Homo sapiens: one gene and its partners. The protein of the gene in region 3 interacts with the protein of the main gene of each other region in a biochemical or structural test. Each region holds a gene or a part of one and is shown on either strand. Other genes may lie near its edges.

What was found. The genes of interacting proteins can lie anywhere in the genome.
Region 1: the proteins of NOTCH3 (region 3) and XKR8 form a complex in vitro, tested with the Homo sapiens proteins (one study listed by BioGRID).
Region 2: the proteins of NOTCH3 (region 3) and WDR25 form a complex in vitro, tested with the Homo sapiens proteins (one study listed by BioGRID).

What each region holds. Positions count from the first base shown.
Region 1 is NC_000001.11:27,955,013-27,963,502, reverse strand, and holds the start of XKR8 (XK-related protein 8), read right to left. Parts: upstream 3,531-8,490; 5' UTR 3,434-3,530; coding exon 3,141-3,433; intron 7-3,140; coding exon 1-6. Other genes in the region: SMPDL3B (acid sphingomyelinase-like phosphodiesterase 3b), read right to left, coding at 4,665-5,027, 7,421-7,554, 7,639-7,819.
Region 2 is NC_000014.9:100,379,195-100,387,014, reverse strand, and holds part of WDR25 (WD repeat-containing protein 25), read right to left. Parts: intron 6,106-7,820; 5' UTR 6,091-6,105; coding exon 5,269-6,090; intron 1-5,268.
Region 3 is NC_000019.10:15,157,987-15,163,714, forward strand, and holds the end of NOTCH3 (neurogenic locus notch homolog protein 3 precursor), read right to left. Parts: intron 4,577-5,728; coding exon 4,479-4,576; intron 3,729-4,478; coding exon 2,676-3,728; 3' UTR 1,052-2,675; downstream 1-1,051. UniProt on the Homo sapiens protein: Functions as a receptor for membrane-bound ligands Jagged1, Jagged2 and Delta1 to regulate cell-fate determination.

The DNA of each region.
Region 1 (8,490 bases), on a different chromosome or scaffold from region 3:
ACGCACCTAGGCACCACACACAAATGCCCAGAGGGCCAGGTTAGTGTCCTGTGAATTCCTCAGCCTCCCACCCATCTAATGAGTGGACACAGGCTCCAACCTGTCTCCTCACATCCATGCTATGGGGCCTTCGGCAATGTCCTAACCTCACTGAACTTGTTTCATCTGTAAAATGAGGATCGAGGCCGGGTGTGGTGGCTCATGCCTGTAATCCCAGCACTTTGGGAGTCTGAGGCGGGCTGATCACGAGTTCAGGAGATTGAGACCATCCTGGCTAACATGGTGAAGCCTCGTCTCTACTAATACAAAAAATTAGCTGGGTGTGGTGGTGCGCGCCTGTAGTCCCAGCTACTCAGGAGGCTGAGGCAGGAGAATCTCTTGAATCTGCAAGGCGGAGGTTACAGTGAGCCGAGATCGTGCCACTGCACTCCAGCCTGGCGACAGAACAAGACTCCGTCTCAAAAAAAACAAAAAAGCAAAAATGGGGATCAATACACCTTCTACTCCCGCTGGCTAAGCACTGTCCCAAGCTCATCACAAACCTTGTCCTGTTTACTTCTCACAAAAGCCCATTTTACAGATGGGGAAACAGGATCAAGAAGCTAATAAGGTCTGGGTGCAGTGGCTCGCGCCTGTAATCCCAACATTTTGACAGGCCAAGGCAAGAGGATCACTGGAGGCCAGGAGTTTGAGACCACCCTGGGCAACACAGCAAGCCCCATCTCTACAAAGAATTTTTTTTAATTAGTTGGACGTGGTGGTACAAGCCTGTAGTCCAAGCTACTCAGGAGGCTGACGCAGGAGGACAGCTTGAGCCCAGGAGTTCAAGGCCACTGTGAGCCATGATTGATTGTGCCACTGCACTCCAGCCCAGGCAACAGAGACCCTGCCTCTCTCTCTCTTTTTTTTTTTCTTTTTTTTTGGAGACAGAGTCTACATCTGTCGCTTGTCGCCCAGGCTAGAGTGCAGTGGCACAAACTCGGCTCACTGCAACCTCCACCTCCCAGGTTCAAGCGATTCTCCTGCCTCGGCCTCCAGAGTAGCTGGGATGCTGGGATTACAGGCATGCGCCACCACACCTGGCTAATTTTTGTAGAGATGAGCTTTTGCCATGTTCAGCAGGCTGGTCTCAAACTCCTGACCTCAAGTGATCCACCCACGTCAGCCTCCCAGACTGCTAGGATTACAGGCATGAGCCACCAAGCCTGACCAGACCCTACCTCTTTTTAAAAAACAAACAAAAAATTATAAGCAGCTAATAAGTACTGGAATGAGGATTTGGATCCAAACCTGAATTGGAAAGGCATGCTATAAAGTTGCCTGAGGCAGTAGTTCTCAAACTTTAGTGTGCCCAAGATCTCCTGGGGTCCTGTGGGCAAGAGGACATTTGCCTCTTGGGCACTTCTGGGCACAGGCCAGATGGAATCAGACTCTGCCTTGCCCCGGCCACACAGGGGAGGGGCTGGAGGAGGGTTAGATTGGAAGGAGGGATCCCATTTAAGAGGCTGGCCCTGAGTGGTTAAGGATGGAGATTGGGGCGGAGTTAAGAGAGTCCAGAGTTTGGACAGACAGGTCTGGGGTACCCACTGGCATGAAGAGTAAGTGGAGGATGCACCAAGGACCCTCCACCCAGAACTTTGCTCTCAGTTGCCTATTGGGAGAGAACCCCGTTCACTCATCACAAGCTCATTCACCAGACATGTACTGTCACTTCCCCTGGAAGGACACAAGAACACACTGAGGAGCAGGCAGGCAGGACAGGCTGGGGTTCTCCCTCAGCAGGAGCCTTTGCCTATGGTCCCCAGTGACCTAGCAGGGACCCCTGCCTCGGCCAATTCACAGGCAGGAACAGAGACCCATTTCCAAAGCCAAAGCTAGTACAGTCTGTCTGACTCAAGCTCAGCAGAAATATTGGCCACAAAGATGCATAAGGTAGTTACAGATTCACGGCTCATGGAGGCCTGCCCAGGACTTAACAACTGCACCCCTTCATGCCCACCCGGGGTTTTCTGATGTCTCTATAATCCCTCAGGCAAAACTGCCACATTCAAAGCTCCTCTCTTCCACTCCTGGAGACTCCGTGTGGCTTTGTCAAGGCCAGATCTCAAGAGTTTGTAAAAACGGATTCAAGAGCAGATCCTGGCCCTGGCCACCCCATCCCAACCCACACCACCCTCTGCCCTGACTTTGTCGCATGCCTCTGAGCCTTGGGTTTGTTTTCCCATCTCTACGAGGCTCCACCAGGTCCAAAAAGGAGCAGAATCCACACACATTTTCCAGGACCCAGCCTATGCCCAGCCCTGGCTGGCTCCATGGGCATGGATGAGTCAGAGGCCATCTCTGCCCTCTTGCTGGGTCTGGGGTGGGAAGCCAAGTTTCAGGGGGAAGAATACAACCAGGCAGACAGGGTGAGAGGCGGCCTTTGTGAGGGGCAAGCGCTGTGGTGGGGTCAGGGCTGCTGAAACTCCCAGGGAGGCCCAGGTCAAGAAGCCAGCTGAGGTTGCTGAGTGCTCACTCTGAGCCAGGGCAGTGGACAGATGTCATTTCACTGCATCTTCACCAAACGGGCAGGCGCTATCCCCATCCCAATGGGAACAGCAACCAAACAGCCCCACTGAGAGGTCAGTGACTTCCCAAGGCCCTGCCCATGCTGAAACATGGGATGCTGAACTGAGTCCGCAGCCCCTGCCATTACAGGCCAGGCACTGTGCGAGGCACTTTCTCATTCTTTCGCTCACTCTTCACAACAGGCCTGCCCGTCACACCTGTCTCAGGGTGACTACCTCCTTTCTACGCAGGAGGAAACTGAGGCTCAGAGAAATGCAGAAGTGAGGCGAGAGGGGGCAAAGCCAGAAGTGGATCCCTGAGAGGTCCGACTTCAAAGCCCATGCGCCTCCCTTTCTTCCCTGGGCCTCAGTTTCTTCGCCTGTGCCAGGAAAGCTAGGGCTAGAATGAAGGCAGTCTACCGGGATTCCCTTTCCGTAAAGGGCTGCACGCTCACCTGTAGGCCAGGCGCCCACAGGACTTGGTTCCCTCTCCCAGTCCCCTTCCCGGCATATGGCGTGTCACCTGTACAGGTGACCCAGCTGACGGAGGTGCTGGGCTCCGACACTCCTCCCCTCCCGGGGCGAAGCACTCACCTGTACAGGTAACCCAGCTGCAGGAGATGCAGCAGCGCCAGGCAGCGGCGCGGGGGCTGCGACCCGTGCAGGCCGGCAGGGTCAGCGCGCAGCCAGAGCCAGCTGAAGAGCTGCAGCGCCACGGAGGCCAGGCCCAGCAGCGCCAGCACCAGCGCCGCCCACAGGTAGCGGCCGCCGAGCGCATACTGGACGGCGGCCCACAGGTCGGTGCCCAGGTCGAGCAGGAAGGCGGCGGTGCCCAGCACGCCCAGGACCAGGTCCCGAAGGAGGGCGCCGCGGGACGACCAGGGCATGGCCCGCCGGCCTCCGCCCTCTCCTGCTCCTCCGCGGTTGGGGCCTGCCCTCAGGGCCCGGGGTTGCCGAGGCAGGAAGGAGGTGGGCGCAGCCCTCGGGGCGGCCCGGGGCCTGGGCCTGGTGGGCGGGACTTCCCCGTCCCGCCCCGTCCGGGGAGGAGCGAGGCCCGCGGTTGTCCCAGGTCCTCCGCCCGAACCCCAGCTAAAAGCCGCTCGATGCTCTGCTCCCGCCGCCAGCCCAGGGGTCCACCGACCCAGCCCAGCCAAGCCCGCTAGGCCTGAAGACCGACTGCCCTTCGCTTCGCAGGCTTCAAATGGCCTAGTTTTACCTTTGAGGCGCCCGGAGGCCCAAGAAAGCGAGAGGGCGGGGAGACTAGAGCCTGGACCAGGGCTGCGATCCCTCACACCTGTATTGTTGCAAAACAAAACGAAACGCAAAGGCACATTCTAATCCCTAAGTGCGAGACTTTGCAACAACGCGTGCGCCTCGATCCAGGGATACCCGGAGAGCACGGGGCCGCTGGGTTCACGCCAGCGATCCGAGTCGGGGGAGGGCGGGCGTTAGGTTCCTGCAAATGAGTTAACCTCATTTCCATACGGAAGGGAATAGAGGCCGGGCGCGGTGACTCACGCCTGTAATCCCAACACTTTGGGAGGCCCAGGCGGGCGGATCACCTGAGGTCAGGAGTTCGAGACCAGCCTGGCAAACATGGCGAAACCCCGTCTCTACTAAAAATACAAATTAGTCGGGCGTGTTGGCGCGCGCCTGTAGTCCCAGCTAGGAGGCTGAGGCAGGAGAATCGCTTGAACCCGGGAGGCAGAGGTTGCAGAGAGCCGAGATAGCGCCACTGCACTCCGGCCTGGGCGACAGAGCGAGACTCCGTCTCAAAAGAAAAGAAAAGGAACACAACACAGAATCAAACGCATGATGAGCTTTGTTTTGTGAGTTAAACATAATACGCAAAAGAAGTATGCTTGTAGGGGGGTCTTGGGTCGTCATTTCTTTTCTGTTTCTGGTTTGTTTTTGGAGAGAGTCTGGCTTTGTCACCCAGGCTGGAGTGCAGTGGCGCGATCACGGATGGCTGCAGCTCCTGGGGCTTCGCTTCCTGATTCGGTTGTCCTATTTCAGTTCACTCCTCAGGCGCGGAGGAAATGGTGGAAGGCCCAGCTCTGGGTGATCCTGGGCGCTGCCCCCGTTACCCGTTACCAGGAAGAAGGTGAGCCTGGCAGGTCACAGCACGAGCGTGCACAGGCCCAGCAGGGCCATCAGCAGCAGCGGGAGCTGGGGCACGGGCGTGGTGCCAGAGGCATACAGACAGGTGGTGTAAGCGTCAATGTCCACCTGGCGCATGGCACACACGTGCTGCATGCTGCAGGCCTCGTCGCAGACCCCAGCAGAGTAGCTGACTGAGTTATAGACGTAGTAGCGCTGCAGTGTGCTCTGGTCGCCAGCGATGCGGTCCAGCACTGTGTGCATGGAGTGGGCGCTGGCGTCCGGCACCCCATAGGCCTCGGTCAGCTGGTACTCGAGCTCCCAGCGCGGCGTCCCCTGAGCATTCGCCTGGCTCAGGTTCATGAAGTAGGTCACCATGTCCTGGAAAAAGGGTTTGGGGTAGACCGGCTGTGAGCAGTTGTCTGCTTCCATCCCCATCCTGCACCTTGCATTTGCCCCCAAGTTCTTTAGAGCAGTGACCATGACCACTAGTAGTTATTGAGCACTTAGCTGTGCACCCATTGTGCTTGGCAGACATCCTCTGAATCGAATGAGGTAACTGCGCTTATTACCTAGGTTTCACAAATGAGGAAACTGAGGCCTAAAGAGGTTAATTCACTTGGCCAGGGTCATACAGGTATTCATACAGGTATTCAGTGGTAGCAGGATTGGACCCCAGGTTTACCCCAGGTCCCACCATGCTAGGGTACACATAGAAGACGCTCAGTAAATATTTACATAATGAATAGATAAAAGCAACATAAAAAGAGCAACACTAAGCATGAGAGAGATTATGAACTGTAGACTCCTAGGACCCAGGTGCATGTTCACGGCTAGACTCTGCAGGGTTCATCAGTCCAGCGGGTTCCAGGTACATTTATGAACCTGCTTCAGGCCACTGCAGACGGGGTAAGAGGAGCTGCCCGTATGCATGGCCACTCTGTGCCAGGAACATTCCATTATTTCATGTAGTCCTCCTCAAACCCTGCGAGGTTCTGTTACTCCCATTTTACAGATGAAGCAAGTGAGGCACAGAGGTCAAAAGATCAAAAAGCTTATGAGTGGTGGAGCCAGGATTCAAGCTCAGGGCTGACTCCCTCCCTGAGGAGAATGGAGGGCCTGTTAGGGGGTGATGGTGCAGCCTGCCATTCCCCTTGCTCAGACCCTTGGAGTGCCCATGTGGACAACAGGCCACTCTTTAAACCCCTCAGACCTCTTCTTAATCTACCTTTACTAGAATCAAGGACCTGGGTTAGCTCATGCAGTCGTTGGCTTTAAATGTCCTCTCTCCACTCCCAGATCACATCTCTATCCTCACCTCTTCAAGCTCCAACTTGCCCCTTCCCTGTCCACTTTCACTTGATGCCATTTAGCCCTCCCAAAGGTAACAGGTCCAAAACAAGACCTCTGACTGACCCTCCGAAGCCTGATCACCCTGCCACTTATCTCAGTAATCGGCAGCCACAGCCTACCGTTGCACAGGCCAAGAGCCTTGGAAGCCTCCTGGATTCGTCCCTTTTTCTCACAGCTCATATCCACTCTAGCAAATCCTGCATCCAGAATTCATCTGGGACCTGGCACTTTTCACCATCTCACTGCCTCCACCCTGGGCAAGCTACTATCCTGTCATCTGGGATTTGTCCTTCCCTCCAAACGGCCTCACTGCTCCCCCACCTGCCCCTACAGCCTGTTCCCTGCACAGCAGACATGATGATTCCATAAAATTATAAGTCACAGGATTTCATTCTTCTGCGCAAAACCCTCCAAATCCAGAGTCCTCATGGAGGCCTGCAAGATCGGACCTCCCCTCCCACTCTCCCCTTGTGCCTCTTACTGTGGCCACATGGCCTCCGTGCTCTTCCCCTAACCTACCACGCACATTCCCACCCCGGGGCCTTTGACTTGCTGTTCCCTCCACCTCCCCAAGATACCCACTGGGCTCCCTCCCTCAATACACTCAGAACTCAAATGGCACCTTATGTGGACACTTCCCCTTCCCACCTATCTAACACAGTACACACCTCCCATAGCTGTCACCCTGTCGCCTCACTGTTTTGATTTTCTCCTTAGCCCTTCTCTCAGTACTATAATTAATTCTACATATTTATTGTCCCTCTCCTGTAAGATGTCAGGTCCAGGAGAGGGGTGACTTTGTTTTTAAATTTACATATCTTCTGAGATTAGAACAGGGCCTGGCCAATGGCACACACTTAATGCATTTTGTTGGATAAATAAAGGAATAATATTTTTCATCTCAACAACCACAAGCTCATCCTACGAGGTGAGGGACTGCCCAAAGAATTAGGGGCTGGAGCCTCGTCTGTGTACGGAAAATGTGGACAATGGGCTTGAAGTCAGACTGTGGGAAGCCTTGAGTACTAGGTCAAGGAGACACAACTTTATCTTGAAGGCACTGGGGAGCCACTGAAGGTTTTTGAGCAGGACGGAGACAAGATGAAAGTGGTGCTATAGGAGATTAGTTTCTTCTCTCTTGTGTAGCGGATGGGCCATAGCAGGGCAGGGCCAGAGGCAGGGAGACCAGGTATGAAGCTGTGACAGTCATCCAGGGGAAAAGGTGACTTGGTGAGGCACTGCCCTGACTCGGTGGCAGGTGCCTCCAGGGTTCTGATCCTGAGCTGGAGAAGGGTGGAAGGAGCTCAACCTTCCTGAGGCTCAGTGGTCAGGGGAAGGTGGATAAGCTGAGAGTGAGGGAAGGTGGTGATGCATTTAAGCCCCTCCCACCCTCCTCCTCTGGCCTCCGCAGGACTCCTGACCTTCAGGCTCAGTGTGGCTCGGTCATATTCGAACACCCGGATGGCTGGATTGTTGGCCCCATTGACCACTCCAGGTAATGTGGTTTTCCATGGGGTGACTCCAGGTGTGATGAACATGGCGCTTATGGGGACACCTGTCAGGAGAGAGACAGCAGGACTGAGCGGGTCTGGGGAGAGAAGGAGGGAGGGAGCTGGCAGTTGCCCTCCAGGTTGAATACCTGCATCATCATAGAGCATCCGAAAGCTGTCGGTGTGGTGGTGCCCGAAGAACTGCCCTGCTATGACGCGATGATGCTTCCGGACCACCTTCAGGTATTTTTCATTGAAGCCCTCCCGGAACCATGCCTTGTTTTGCGTCTTCTCAAAGAACCCCGGGGGCACGTGGCCGACAATGTACACCTACAAGGGAGGGGTTCCCAGAAGAGGCTCACAGATGCCCTCTCCAGACCCTCATTTCTACTTCTCAAAACCTGCAAATTGCCCCAAAGGCAGGTAGACAGGCCCAAATGTATCTCCTCCCTGAAGGCCTCCCGGATTCCATGTCCCACTTTCTCCCTGTGCCCTGCAATGAATGCACCACATACCTTCCCACCTCTGTGCCTGCCACCTGGAGTACCCTTCTCCTTTTCACTTCTGTAAATCCTCCCCACACTTCAAAGAGCACCTCCCCCATGAAGCTTTCCTAATCCTTCAAAGACTACTCTTCTCTTGGAGAGCTTGAACACTGCAACGAAACCATTCTTGCGTGGTTGTGTGATATGCTACACGGTAATGTGCATTCGTTTCTTACATTCCTTGAGTCACTCATCTGACAACACCTGGGCACTTGGCCACCATGGCAGGAGTTAGAACAGGGGACAGAGTTAAATGTATGAGTTTTGGAGTCAGACTGCAGCTTAGACACCAGCTGTGTATCACCTCTCTGAGCTGCTGTTTTCTCATCTGGAATAGCACATAGCTGGTGGGGTTTTGAGAATGATGGACTCGCTACTGAGCCGGGGTTTCCATAGTTCTGCTACCTGAGATCATCCGCATAATGTCCTAAACAACGTGCCCAATGTTGGCATAGT
Region 2 (7,820 bases), on a different chromosome or scaffold from region 3:
CAAGGAGTACAACAGTGGTACTGAAGGTTTGCCAATCTAATCAGGTCCCACTCTCACCACACACAAGGGCTTTAGCTAATGCCTGGGTGTAAATCAAAGCCCATCTTTTTCTTTTTTTTTCTGAGATGGAGTCTCGCTCTTTCACCCAGGCTGGAGTGCAGTGGTGCGATCTGGGCTCACTGCAAGCTCCGCCTCCTGGGTTCATGCCATTCTCCTGCCTCAGCCTCCCGAGCAGCTGGGACTACAGCCGCCCACCACCGCGCCCGGCTAATTTTTTGTATTTTTAGTAGAGACGGGGTTTCACCATGTTAGCCAAGATGGTCTCAATCTCCTGACCTCGTGATCCGCCTGCCTCGGCCTCCCAAAGTGCTGGGATTACAGGCATGAGCCACCGCGCCTGGCCTCAAAGCCCATCTTAACTGCATTAAGGCAGCAAAAAAAGACAATATTTATGTATAGCCATATTCACTGTAATACTGATTATTTTTTAAACAAAAGCAGGAAATTATAGGAAACAACATGGAAATGATGGAGCAAAGTATGAAACTTGAGACAGTTATAAAAATATATTTGGGGAAAAGTTTTTAATAAGGTAGAAAAATTCCCCTTACACGTTACAGAAGATTGGGCAGCAGAGGAAGAATTCAAAACTGCACATACTATGCAATAAGCCCAATTATGTAAACAGATAGGAATGTAGGGCCCCCGACCAGGGAGGCCCCTCATGTTAATGAGGCACTGACTTGGGGTTGGGAGTTATCAATGATTTCTGTTTCTCCTTCATACTTCATATTTCCTGCATCATTAAAGTTTTTCACAATAAGCATCTATTACATTCATGGTCAAAAATTAAAAGGTTTTTTTTCAAAGTATTTTAAGGAAGCTTGTTACTGAAAGAATTTCTAGAGCAAATTATTCTGTAAAGCAAATAAACAACATCTAATTCATATATTTTCTTTAAAAACCTTCTGTGTTTCAGAACTGCAGGTTTTCATACAGGTACAGAAGGTCCCTGGTGGGTCTTCTGTCACCCACCCAAAGGTCTTATTCCTTTGGGACTCCCTCTCAGTGCCTGGCAGAGGGTTCTGTACATGGGAGCATTCAATAACGGCTGGTTGTGTTTTTGGTTAACGCAGGCCACGTACATGTTTTCCTTCAAAAAAAGGCATCAAAGTCTGAATTTCTACCTTTACGTGCAGTGGGTGTTCAAACACGTTAAGCCAAAAGAGTTCACTGGGAGATGAAAAGAGTATATAAAAGGGTATCCGTGCTGGGATCACAGCTATGAAAAAAACAAGCACGTTCACAGACAAGGGGAGGAAGGGATCGTCAGGAAAGAGCAGCGGTGCAGAATTATGAGTCATTGTTTTATTTTACTTAATTTCTCTAGCTGTAAATTTTTCAAAACTAATAAAAGCATATTTTACAGCTCACAGAACATTTAGAACATATTAAAATAAGTATCTTTCCACTGTAATGTGTCCAGTTGAAATGTATGAATTCCGAAGCTACGTTTTAAGGATATGAAGGAACTGGCACTCCATGTTCTTTAGATTAATAAGTTGGACTGTGTTGTTTTTCTCCTGATCAGAAAGAAATCATTTTTCAGTAAATGTTACCTTGAATCAAGGATTCTTCCACATTCTAGAAGCTTGGATGAGCTGCTTATATTAAGTCTTACTGTGCACCCTAGTGGCGAATATGATTTATCCACTCAAAAGACAATCCCTTCCCAAAGGCTTGCGATAAAATCCAAAAAATTTGTTTTAATTTTTATCGATCACTTAACATGTACACAATTTTGTGCCAGATGCTGGGGAATATAAAAATGGGTTCTGGCTCAGGAAGCTTAAAGTCTAGTAGGTGAAGCTGATATGCTTCCATGGCTACTTACGTAAAATAAGACATGAGCACAAGTCAAGGAAAGGAGGAAATTCTTGGGGAAAAGCAGGAACTCGAGCACACACTAAGTGCCTGCTATGTGCCAGGCATTGCACTTGGTGATTCACAACTAATATCGTTTACTTTTCACAAAAACCCAGCGAGGCATGTTTAATTCTCTCCACTTTATAGATACTCAAATGAAGGCTCAGAAGTGAGGTAACTTGCCAGAGACCACGCAACCAAGGGGCTGGCCGTAGAGGAAGGACCCAAGCAGGTCTTGTCACCCAGCCCCCAAGCTCTTCCCTCCTTCCTGATCCAGCAGGGGCCCAGAAGACACTGGCAGATTTTAACCAAAAGGCAGGGGGAAAGCACCCTGGGAAGGGTGTACTGCTGCACCCGCCTCTTTGAGCTCATTCCATGCTGCACCCACCATTTCCTCTCCTCCAGGGACTGGGCTGCAGCCAGCCAGGACTCCTGCCTGTGCCCGAGGCCCTATCCCCACTCCAGACCCACCACCCACACCCACACACTGCCTTCCCCAGATCACCAGGTCCCCAAGATCTGCCATGCTGCCCCACCTCTGACACCAAGGAGGGAAAAGAACACCATGTGCCTCCCAGCCAGGCCACGCACAAACCTGGTGGCCCAGCAAGCCTGAGGCCTCAGCCGGGACTTCTGGCCACAGCTCCTGCCTGGCTCCCCGCCGGTTCCCAATCTGTCTTCCCATCCTGGCTCCTCCAGCCCCTGCCATACACTCTTCACACTGAAAAGTTGTTCAAAGTCAATTTGCCCAAAACCAATTTGCCAAATAACCCCATCACTGAAAACTGACAAATATCTTAAAACAGAGAGGGCCCTGGCCCACCATTTGTATCTATGGCTTATAAAAGCCCTAATGTTCACGACACCACAGTAAAAAAAGAGGGTCAGGAGATGCCAACCCTAGCAGCCATGCTGACCCTGGCCCAACCTCATGACAGCAAATGTGCTCTGCCCTGGGAAGGAACCCAGGGTGCACAGTGCAGTGGGTGGGGCTCCCCAGAAGCTGCCTGGCAGCCCAAGGGGCCCATGCCAGTGTCATCACCTGCAGCACACACAGTCTCCTCGGGACAGGCGGGCACAGCTGCGGCGCCTGGCCCCACCCAGGGCAGCCCCACAGACCCGGACCCAGGTCTCTGAATCGCCCAGGAGCAGGGCATTCCTACCACAGTCCCTCAGTCTGAGCCACCCTCACTGCCATTCCAAGCTGGGCCCACTGCGCCCTCTTCTGGTCATGAGGTGTCACAGTTAGTTGGCTGCTCACAGTTTCCCCTCCATGGGGGCAGAAACGTCTCTCCCCCCACGTCCCCAGTGGCACCGTGCCTGGCACATTTGTCTACTCCACAAGGCCAGAAATCAATGCCTCTACTCAGGTGCTCTCTGCTCAAAAACTACCATGGGGATGCTTCTGTTTAGGAAATCTAAATTTCCCAGGCAAAAGTGACCCAAGCTGCCACTCTGCCAGCAGGGCCCAGGGAGCACTTCACGCCACCAGGCGAAGGCCAGTCCCACAGGGCCCCAGGTCTGCCCCTCACCATCAGGAGAGAGAACTCCAGAGGTGAGCGGGCAGGTAAAAGAAGGCCTCAACAGGAAGGTGAGCACAGGGAGGACAAGGGCCACCACTTGAACTCCAGGGCCAGTCAGACACTGCCCAGGCCCACCAGCAACCCTCCAGATGGGCTTCCCATCCTCCAGCCCTTGCAGCGCAGACTTGGGAAGGAGAGCAGAGAAGCCCCGGGGCCACAGGATCAATCCCAGCATGCTGTGATCCACGCCAGGGATGCCAGAAGCCTCCGCGCACACTTCACAGCCCCCGGAATGGCAGGAAAAGCACCAAAGACCTAAGTGGAAAATCCTGGAACTCCAGGCTGAAGAGAGAATATGACGTTCTCTCCCACAGGACTCTGAGTCTTGCTAGAAAAGAGCACAGACAAGCCACTTCAGGACTCCAGTTCGCCACTTAAAAATGCCACCCATCAATTCAGCTCATTTCAAAGACATCTCTATACTTGGAGCTTCCTTTCTTCACTTAAGAAAATGTTTCCGAGGGAGAAAAGCTCAAAATGTAATTTGCAAGAGAAAAGATGTAGGAAAGTTGGTTCCAGAACTCTGAGGAAACAAGGGCAAGGGAACCACCATTTACTGAGCGCCTATGAGGTACCTGGCTCTGTGCAAGGCACTTTTTCAGCATTTTTCTCACATGAGCACATGACCCAGGTATGATTTTGCCCTTTTACAAATGAGACACTAGACTCCACAGGAAGGCAGCCGGCCAGTGGTCGACCAGCTAGCTACTCTGCAGCAAAGCTGGATGTGAAGCCAGGTCCCTTGAAGTTATTTCCTTTCCAAGAGCTTTCTGTTCAGCTAGCATTTAGTTGGCACCCGCTACATATCAGGTGCTTTGCTAGCTGCGAGGAGAGAGAGGAGGGATGCAGTGCACAGCTCGAAGGGCTGGAGACAGGTCCCAGGTGGGCACAACGACCTATCACACTGTACCTCCATACTGGGGGACTACATTACTATCACTTCAGTAGCCTGTAAAATAAATAAGACAATGCAAAAAAGAGTTTCCATGTAAAACCAGAAGTCCCCAGAAGGGCACGTGCAACCTTCCCTGACCTTGCTTCCCCAGCCTCAAGTCCCTCACCCACACATGCTTGAAGCCAGCTCCCAGGCCCTCATGCTTGGAGCCAACACATACACAGGGCTCCTGCAGCCAAGCACGCCCTTCTGCCCCCATCCCCAAGCGAACCTTCCCCTTCCTCAGGAGGCCTTCACTGAGCCCTGCCGGGCTGGGCTGGTAACCCTCCCGTTGGGCTCCCAGAGCACCTGTGTGTCCTACTGGGGGCCGTCCTCACAGCTCAGGGTTGAGTCTGTGTACTTGTCCACGGCTCCCGCCTCACTGTGCAAGCCCTGACACCAGGGGCTGGGTCTACCTACCTCTCCCAACAGCCCTTGAAACCAGCACAGCACCAGGCACAGAGCTGGCATGGCTCAATGCTCCACAGGGTCACCGAGGATGTCCCCAGTCCCCAGGGCTTGGTCCTGGGCCTGCTTTTCTTCTCCCACTAATCACTCTCACCTCCTCCCTCACGGCCTCCGAGAGGGATAAGAAACAGTATCCTCTGGTAACCTGAGCAAGGCAGCATCAGGGAAGGGTTGGGGCAGAAGGAACCCACAACCCGGAGCTGACCACAGATGACCCTTTCTGGAATGCAACAAAGGGAATTACAGAAATCTGCACACAAAAAAAAGTTCAGCCTGTAACCTCCCTCCACTTCACTATTATTCCAGCAGTGTATTCCTAAGAGCATCTGAAAGCAGAAGTTTTCATTCAAGTCTTACCTTGAAAGTTTTATCCATAGAAGTGGAGAGAAGCATGTGGCTCTTAGAAAGGACTGGACACCACTGAATGGTGTTGACAGGGCCCCTGTGGCCTCTCAGGTGGAAAAGCACTTTCCGGGGAACTGTGGTTTCTTTATAATGGCTATTCAAATATGGCTGAATAAACTCAGACACTCCCGGGCCCACGTAGAGAGGGGCTGGGGCACGCCCTGCAGGGGGCCCCTGTGGCTCCACGTCTTTACCCTTGCCTGTCTCCGTGCTTAATGCCTGCCGCTGTCTTAGTCTTCTGGGAGTATAGGGTACCACACAGTCCTCACATTTTTTCTTCTGAAAAGAGCTGCCATTTTTACCTACGGTTTCAGACTCACTTTGAGCATGGAAAGATGACTTGGGAAAGTTCCTGGAGAGTTTTACTTGCTTAAAGCGGGCAGCTGCCAGGGGCATGTGGCTGGCTGGAACATGGCTCGTCCACAGAGAAGAACAAGAAGGCTCTTTGATGGGGAAGGTGACTTGAGGCTCCTTCCCGGGCCACTGTAGCCTCTGGCTGGGGCAAGATCCCCAATCGCTTCTCCCAAGCTGAGCCAATGGAAGGCGATAGCCCCCTGGGTCTTCACAGGAGCCATGCTTTGTGGGCTGTGCCCCTGCTTTGGGCACATCCAGTGTACCAGATGCAAAATCCTGCCCAGGTGGTCTGGCCACACCAGAAGTGTCTTTCTGCTGGCCGGTAGCATTAAAACTTCCTGCATGCTCTGTCTCAGCCTCCGAGTCCGAATCATCATACGCTACCAATGAAGCCATTAAAGACAGAGTTCTTGCTGTCATTCAAAGCCAAACCACCTAAGATCAAACAAGGTCAACCGTCAGAAAATGTGCATGGAAGAATATGTATGTAGTTATAAGAAACCATGTCACCTAGGAAATCCAATAACTCAACACTCATAAGAATAAACACAGGCCAGGCGTGGTGGCTCACGCCTGTAATCCCAGCACTTCAGGAGGCCGAGGTGGGTGGATAACCTGAGATCAGGAGTTCGAGACCAGCCTGGCCAACATGGTGAAACCCCGTCTCTACTAAAAATACAAAAAGTAGCGAGGCAGGGTGGCAGGCACCTGTAGTCCCAGCTACTCGGGAGGCTGAGGCAGGAGATCGCTTGAACCTGGGAGGCGGAGGTTGCAGTGAGCAGAAATTGTGCCACTGCACTCCAGCCTGGTCAACAAGAGCGAGACTCTGACTCAAAAAAAAAAAAGAAAGAAAAAGAATAAATACAAAAACAAAAAAGGCTTTTCTACATATCAGGCCCAATTAGTTAGAAGATAAAATTTTTGAAATTGAAACTATGGAATAGCTGGGGGTAAATCTGTAAAAAATAAGCAAGACCTACATGAAGACTTATAGTAAGTCTGGGTGCAGTGGTTCACACCTGTAATCCCAGCATTCTGGGAGGCTGAGGTGGGCGGATCACTTGAGGTGAGGAGTTCGAGACCAGCCTGGCCAACATAGTGACACCCCATCTCAAGTAAAAATACAAAAATTAGCCAGGCCTGGTGGCACACAACTGTAATCCCAGCTACTTGGGAGGCTGAGGCAGGAGAATCTCTTGAACCCAGGAGGTGGAGGTTGCAATGACCTGAGATTGCACCACTGCACTCCAGCCTGGGTGCCAGAGGGAGACTCCATCTCAAAAAGAGAAAAGAAAAGAAAAAAGCGCTGGGTGCAGTGGTTCATGCCTGTAATCCCAGCACTTTGGGAGGCCAAGGCGGGGGGAATCACAAGGTCAGGAGCTCAAGAGCAGCCTGGCCAACATAGTGAAACCCCATCTCTACTAAAAATACAAAAATTAGCCAGGCGTGGTGGCACGCACCTGTAGTCCCAGCTACTCGGGAGGCTGAAGCAGGAGAATCACTTGAACCCAGGAGGCGGAAGTTGCAGTGAACCGAGATTGTGCCACTGCACTCCAGACTGGGTGACAGAGTGAGACTCTGTCTCAAAAAAGTAAAATTAAAAAAAAAAAAGGAAAGAAAACTAAAACTTTTATTGAAGGACATAAAAGAAGACCTAGGCTGGGCGTGATGGCTCACACCTGAAATCCCAGCACTTTGGGAGGCCAAGGTTGGTGGATCACCTGAGGTCAGGAGTTCAAGACTAGTCTGACCAATATGGCAAAGCCCCGTCTCTACTAAAAATACAAAAATTAGCCGGACATGGTGGCAGGCGCCTGTAGTCCCAGCTACTTGAGAGGCTGAGACAGAAGAATTGCTTGAACCCGGGAGGTGGAGGTTGCAGTGAGCTGAGATCATGCCACTGCACTCTAGCCTGAGTGACAGAGCAAGACTCCATCTCAAAAAAAAAAAAAAAGAAAAAAAAAGAAGACCTGAAGAGACAATGCCTACAGAGAAAGAGACAGGACTTTAAAAATGCCTTTGGAAGGTCCATTTTGGTCATATGTGTTACAAGTTTAAACACATCATTTTCACCCCAGCAACCCCACTGTAGAACTTTATCCTACACAAATACTAGCATATGTTTGCTAGATGTATAAATCCATGAAGAT
Region 3 (5,728 bases):
TTCCAAAGAAGAGACTTTAAGACATGCTTTAAGACAACAACAGGTGTGAATCTGCCTCCCAGATGACAATTGGCAATGTCTGGAGACATGTTATATTGGTTGTCACAACTGGAAAAGGGGTGCTGCTGGTAGCTAATGGGTAGGGACCAGAGATGCTATTAAATATCCTACAATGCACAGGACAGCTCCCCACAGCAAAGAATGATTTGGCCCCAAATGTCAATAATGCCGAAATTAAGAAACCTTAGGTTAGAGGGTGGATACGTGAACCAATTGGAGTCAATAGAAAAATCAACCACAAGGTCGAGTGCGATGACTCATGCCTGTAATCCCAGCACTTTGGGAGGCCAAGGTGGATGGATCACCTGAGGTCCGGAGTTCGAGACCAGCCTGGCCAACATGGTGAAATCCTGTCTCTACTGAAAATACAAAAATTAGCCAGGCATGGAGGTGGACACCTGTAATCCCAGCTACTTGGGAGACTGAGGCAGGAGAATTGCTTGAACCCGGAGGCGGGGGATGCAGTGAGCCGAGATTGTGCCATTGCACTCCAGCCTGGGTGACAAGAACAAGACTCTATCTTAAAAAAAAAAAAAAAAAAAGGAAGAAAGTAAAAGAAAAATCAATCACAATACTAGGAGTTTCTCTCTTCCCTGGAAGGAGCAATATGGCACCTATTTTGATAACACAGAGAGAAGGCTGGAGCTGTGTGATGTCGGGAAGAGAGGTTCTACTGGGTGCCATGTGGAGCATGTAGATGAAACTGATGCCCAGAGAAAGCTGTAGAGATGAAGAGAAACTGAGCCATTGTTGACCACATTTGAGCCACTAGATCAATTCTCCCCTGAAGTAGGTCCTTTTAATTTATATGAGCTAATAAACCCCTTTCTTGTTTAAGCCAGTAGACTTTTGTGTCATTTGCAACCAGGAGCACTCCAACTGACAGAATCAACGAACATTAAATCCTATCCTCCTTTCCTGAAGACACCAGTGTAAACAGAACCTTGTCTTGGAGCACGACTGGTTGCGAGTAACAGAAACCCACCGAAGCTGGCACAAGTAAAGAAGTATTTATTACATGGGTCCAAGGTTATCTCCAAAACCCATAGGAGCATGAAGTAAAAGTGAAATTCATGCAGAACCATGATCAGATACTTAGAAAGCAATTAATAAATACCTGTTGATCTCAATGGAATGAACACTCAATTAACTGGAATTGATAACTGCACTGGGAGCCGAGATAACCCCCCCAGCCCTCAAGGAGCCATTTGAGCTCTCATTTCTGATTCTCCCTGAATATTAGCTTCATTCTTCTGCCCTGTTTGCTTGTCTCTTTGCCCACCACCTCGAATTGGCCACTGATATTTCTAAATCTGATTGTGACCTTAAGAGCTCCACCAACTGACAACTTTCTTAGCCTCTCCATTAAAGAAAGTTCTCGAGCAAAAGAATCTGATTGGCTCAGCTTAAGTCAGGTGACAACCACTAATCCAATCGGTAGTCATCTGCCAAAAGAGGAAGCATAAGTAGACTGGCAAGTCAAATGTATTTACCCCAAGATGGGAGCTCAAGTTAGCCCTGGGTGGGGGAGATAGAAGTCCCACTGCCACCACTCCCCACCTTACCTAGACACAGACCAACAACACTGAGTGTTAACTATTCCTTTATTAGGTGGTGAGGGGAGTGGGGGGCTGTACAATGCAGGGCTTGGGAATTCAGCTACACAGGGATTTTGACCAGAAGCCATATTACAAAAATAGCCTAAAAATACCTCTATTCTGCCATGAGGCTGGGCCAGAGGATTACCAGGAAGAGAAAGTACCACTCAGGCAGCTCCTCTTCTTGTAGTCCCACATTTACAGGGACACAAAGGAATGCATACATCTGCCCTGGCTCCCATTTCCCACCAGCAGCCCCCTAGTTCCCAAAGGGAGATGGCCAAGGGTGGGGCTGGGGCAGAGGGAGTTGGCAGTGGGCCCTTCCCCAGCAAGGCTATGGAACATGTCCCATCTGGAATGCAGTGAAGTGAGGGAGGTGGGGTGGGGAGGAGGCTCCCAACACTCCCCCGACCCCTGGCCCCAGTGGGTGCGCCCAAGGGTGCCTACTTGGTACATACCTGGGTCGTGTACTCGGTACACGGGATCCCAGTCATGCCTGTGTACTAGGTACACAGAATCCAGCTTGGCCGAATGGGCCCACAGACTCAGCCCCACGGGGGCACTGGGGGGTTCACAGGGGGAGGGAGCATCTCCATATATATATTTTGTAAAAAATAATAATAATAAGTTTGTTTAAATGAATTTGTTTCTATACAAAATGTAAAAAAAAAAAGAAAAATAAAAATAATAATAATTCATTCATGTCAGAGTGTAAGGAAATGAGAGGCCAGAAGGAGAGAGAAAGGAATGAGGGAAGAGAGAAGTGGGGAAGAAGGAGGTCCCAGACTCTTCACAAGACTGAGAGGGTGGGTGGTAGCCCCCACCCATTATAAATAAAGGAAGACTGAAGCCCTGGGCTGATGACCTATCTCGGTCACGCTGCAAGGCAAGGATGCAGGAGGGTTGGTGGAAAGAGAAGAGGATGAAAAAGACTAAAAGGAAGGAAGAGACAGAGAAAGAAAGGAGGCAGGACGGGGGTCTCTTTAGGCCCCCAAGATCTAAGAACTGACGAGCGTCTCAGGCCAACACTTGCCTCTTGGGGGTAACTTCCGGCTGGGGCCCCAGCTGGGTCTGGGCCTGAGCAAGGGAGCTGGGAACAGACAAGGGAAGTGGCTGGGCAGGCAGTGCCCCAGTGGTGGTGGCCATGGCCCCAGTGGCAGTGGCTGGGCTAGGCGTGGATTCGGACCAGTCTGAGAGGGAGGGAGGTGAGGGGCTGGCCCAGTGCTCAGGGGATTCGGGGGATGGGGTCAGGTAAGGGTGCTCACTGGGAACCCGCAGGAAGCGGGCCTTTGGGGGGCTGCTGTGTGCCCCAGCCGCCGGGTACTCCTCGCCATGTCCTGGGACTGCCAGGTAAGGCGGGGGCCGCTCCTGCGGGGAGACGGGGGTCCCTGGGTTGAGCAGCTGGGGTCCCGGCGCCAGTGGCAGCAGGAACGAGGGGCCTGGAGGGGCAGGTGGGGGCAGCCGGGCCCAATCGAGGGGCACAGCCACAGGGTTCAGCAGGCCCAGGCTGAGTACACATCCTCCAGGGGGCTGGCGCCCTAGACCCGCCCGGCCTGGGCCACCAAGCTGTGCCAGAGACACTGCAGTGGCAGTGGCAGCTGCATAGGGCCCCTCAAGGGGGAAGCCACCAGGGGAAGCAGGGGGCCCACCGAAAGGCCGCGGGGAGTCCAGCGAGTCCACGGGCGACAGCGTGACCGAGCTGTCAGCCAGGGGGCCCGGGCAGGCCAGCGTCAGCTTCTTGCCCCGCCCCCGGGGCCCCTGCGGCCCCAGCCCCGCCTTCCCGGGGGGCCTCCTGCTCTTCTTGGACCCCGACTGTGCCGCTTTGAGGCCAGGGAGGAAGGCCCCTGGAGGACAGAGCAGAGGCCCCAGGCCGTGGGGACCGGGGGGGCTGCGGGGCCCACTGGGTTGATCCAGCAAGCGCACGATGTCCTGGTGCAGTCTCTCCTGGGCTACGTCCCGCGGCAGCCTGTCCAGGTGGTCGGTGATCTCACGGTTGGCAAAGTGGTCCAACAGCAGCTTGGCAGCCTCATAGCTGCCCTCGCGGGCGGCCAGGAATAGGGGGGTCTCCTCCTGGGGGGCCAGAACCCACAGAGGTCAGCGAAACCCCAGCTAACAGTAGCAAAGTCTTCCAGCCTCTTGGGGGAGCCCGAGAGCTATGAGTTTGTACACTGGAGCTTGACAGACCTGGGTTAAATCCCGGCTGTGCTGGGGGAGCCTGGACAAGTTCTTTCCTCTAAACCACATTCATCCATCACCTACTAAGTGCCAGAGGTCAAGGCCAGGACTAGGGTGAGTTAAGCGAGGTACTCACCTTAGGCATAACTTTTTTTTTCTTGTCTTTTTTTTTTTTTTTTTTTGACAGAGTCTCACTGTGTCGCCCAGGCTGGAGTGCAGTGGCGCCATTTCAGTTCACTGCAACCTCAGCCTTCCGGGTTCAAGCGATTCTCCTGCCTCAGCCTCCCGAGCAGCTGGGACTACAGGTGTGCACCACTACGCCCAGCTAATTTTTGTATTTTTAATAGAGACAGGGTTTTACTACGTTGGCCAGGCTGGTCTCAAACTCCTGAACTCAAGTAATCCACCCATCTCGACCTCCCAAAGTGCTGGGATTATAGGCATGAACCACCACACCCAGCCATTAGGCACAAAATTTAAGGGGCCCCCAAAAACTTTAGTCACCAAAGTAAATTATATTTTAATCCAATGTTTGGGGTTTTATTTTGTTTTGTTTTTTGAGAGAGTCTCACTCTGTTGCCCAGGCTGGATTGCAATGGCACTGTGCCACTGCTGACACCCAGTGGACCAAGGGCTGGGGCTCACCTTGCTATCCTGCATGTCCTTATTGGCTCCATTTTTGAGCAGGGCCAAAGTGGCTTCCACGTTGTTCACAGCCGCAGCCCAGTGTAAGGCTGATTTCCCTGGAGGATGAAGGGGAGAGAGGTCAGGACCAGGCACCTGTCCTGGGGCCCCCATGTCAGGGAGGCAGAAATTGTCTAGAATGTGGCCTAGGGGTAGAGGAGGCAGGCCTGCCGTGAATATCCAAGTACTTGTGTCTGGATCCATGTGTGTGCAAATCTGCAAAATGACTCTGTGCAATGGGGAAGCACTTTGTGTCTGTGTGTGTGTGTTTGTGTGTGTGTGTGTGTGTGCGTGCATGTGCATGACTGTTTATACACAGGGGGTGCTGTGTGGACCTCCTTCAGTTGAACCTAGGGTTGTGACATCCAATACAGTAGTCAGTCACATGTGGTTTTTATTTATCCATTTATTTATTTTTGAGGTAGTGTCTTGTTCTGTCACCCAGGCTGGAGTCCATTGGCACAATCTCAGTTCACTGCAACCTCTACCTGCTGGGCTCAGGCGATTTTCCTGCCTCAGCCTCCCTAGTAGCTGGGACTACAGGCATGTACCACCATGCCCAGCTGATTTTTTGTATTTTTGATAGAGATAGAGTTCCACTATGTTGCCCAAACTGGTCTCAAACTCCTAAGCTCAAGTGATCCACCAGCCTTGGCCTCCCAAAGTGTTGGGATTACAGGCATGAGCCACCGTGCCCAACCTACATGTGGTTCTTTAGATTTAAATTTAATAAAATAGGTGCCAGGACCATTCAATGGGGAAAGAATGGTCTTCTCAACTAATGGTGCTGGAACAACTGAATATTCACATTCAAAGAATGAAGTTGGACCCCTACCTCACACTTTATACAAACACTAACTCAAAATGGATCAGAAACCTAAATATATGAGCTCCAACTATAGAACTAAACATCTAGAAGAAAACATAAGAGTAAATCTTCATGACCTTGAATTAGGCCAAGATTCTTAGATGTGACACCAAAACCACAAATAACAATAACAACTACAAAACAGATAAATTGGACATGATCAAAATTGAAACTTTTGGCCAGGCACAGTGGCTCACGCCTATAATCTCAACAATTTGGGAGGCCAAGGTGGGAGTATTGCTTAAGGCCAGGAGTTTGAGATCAGCCTGGGCAACAAAGTGAGACCCCATTTCCACAAAAAATTTAAGAATTACCCAGGTATGCTGGCACACACCTGTAATAC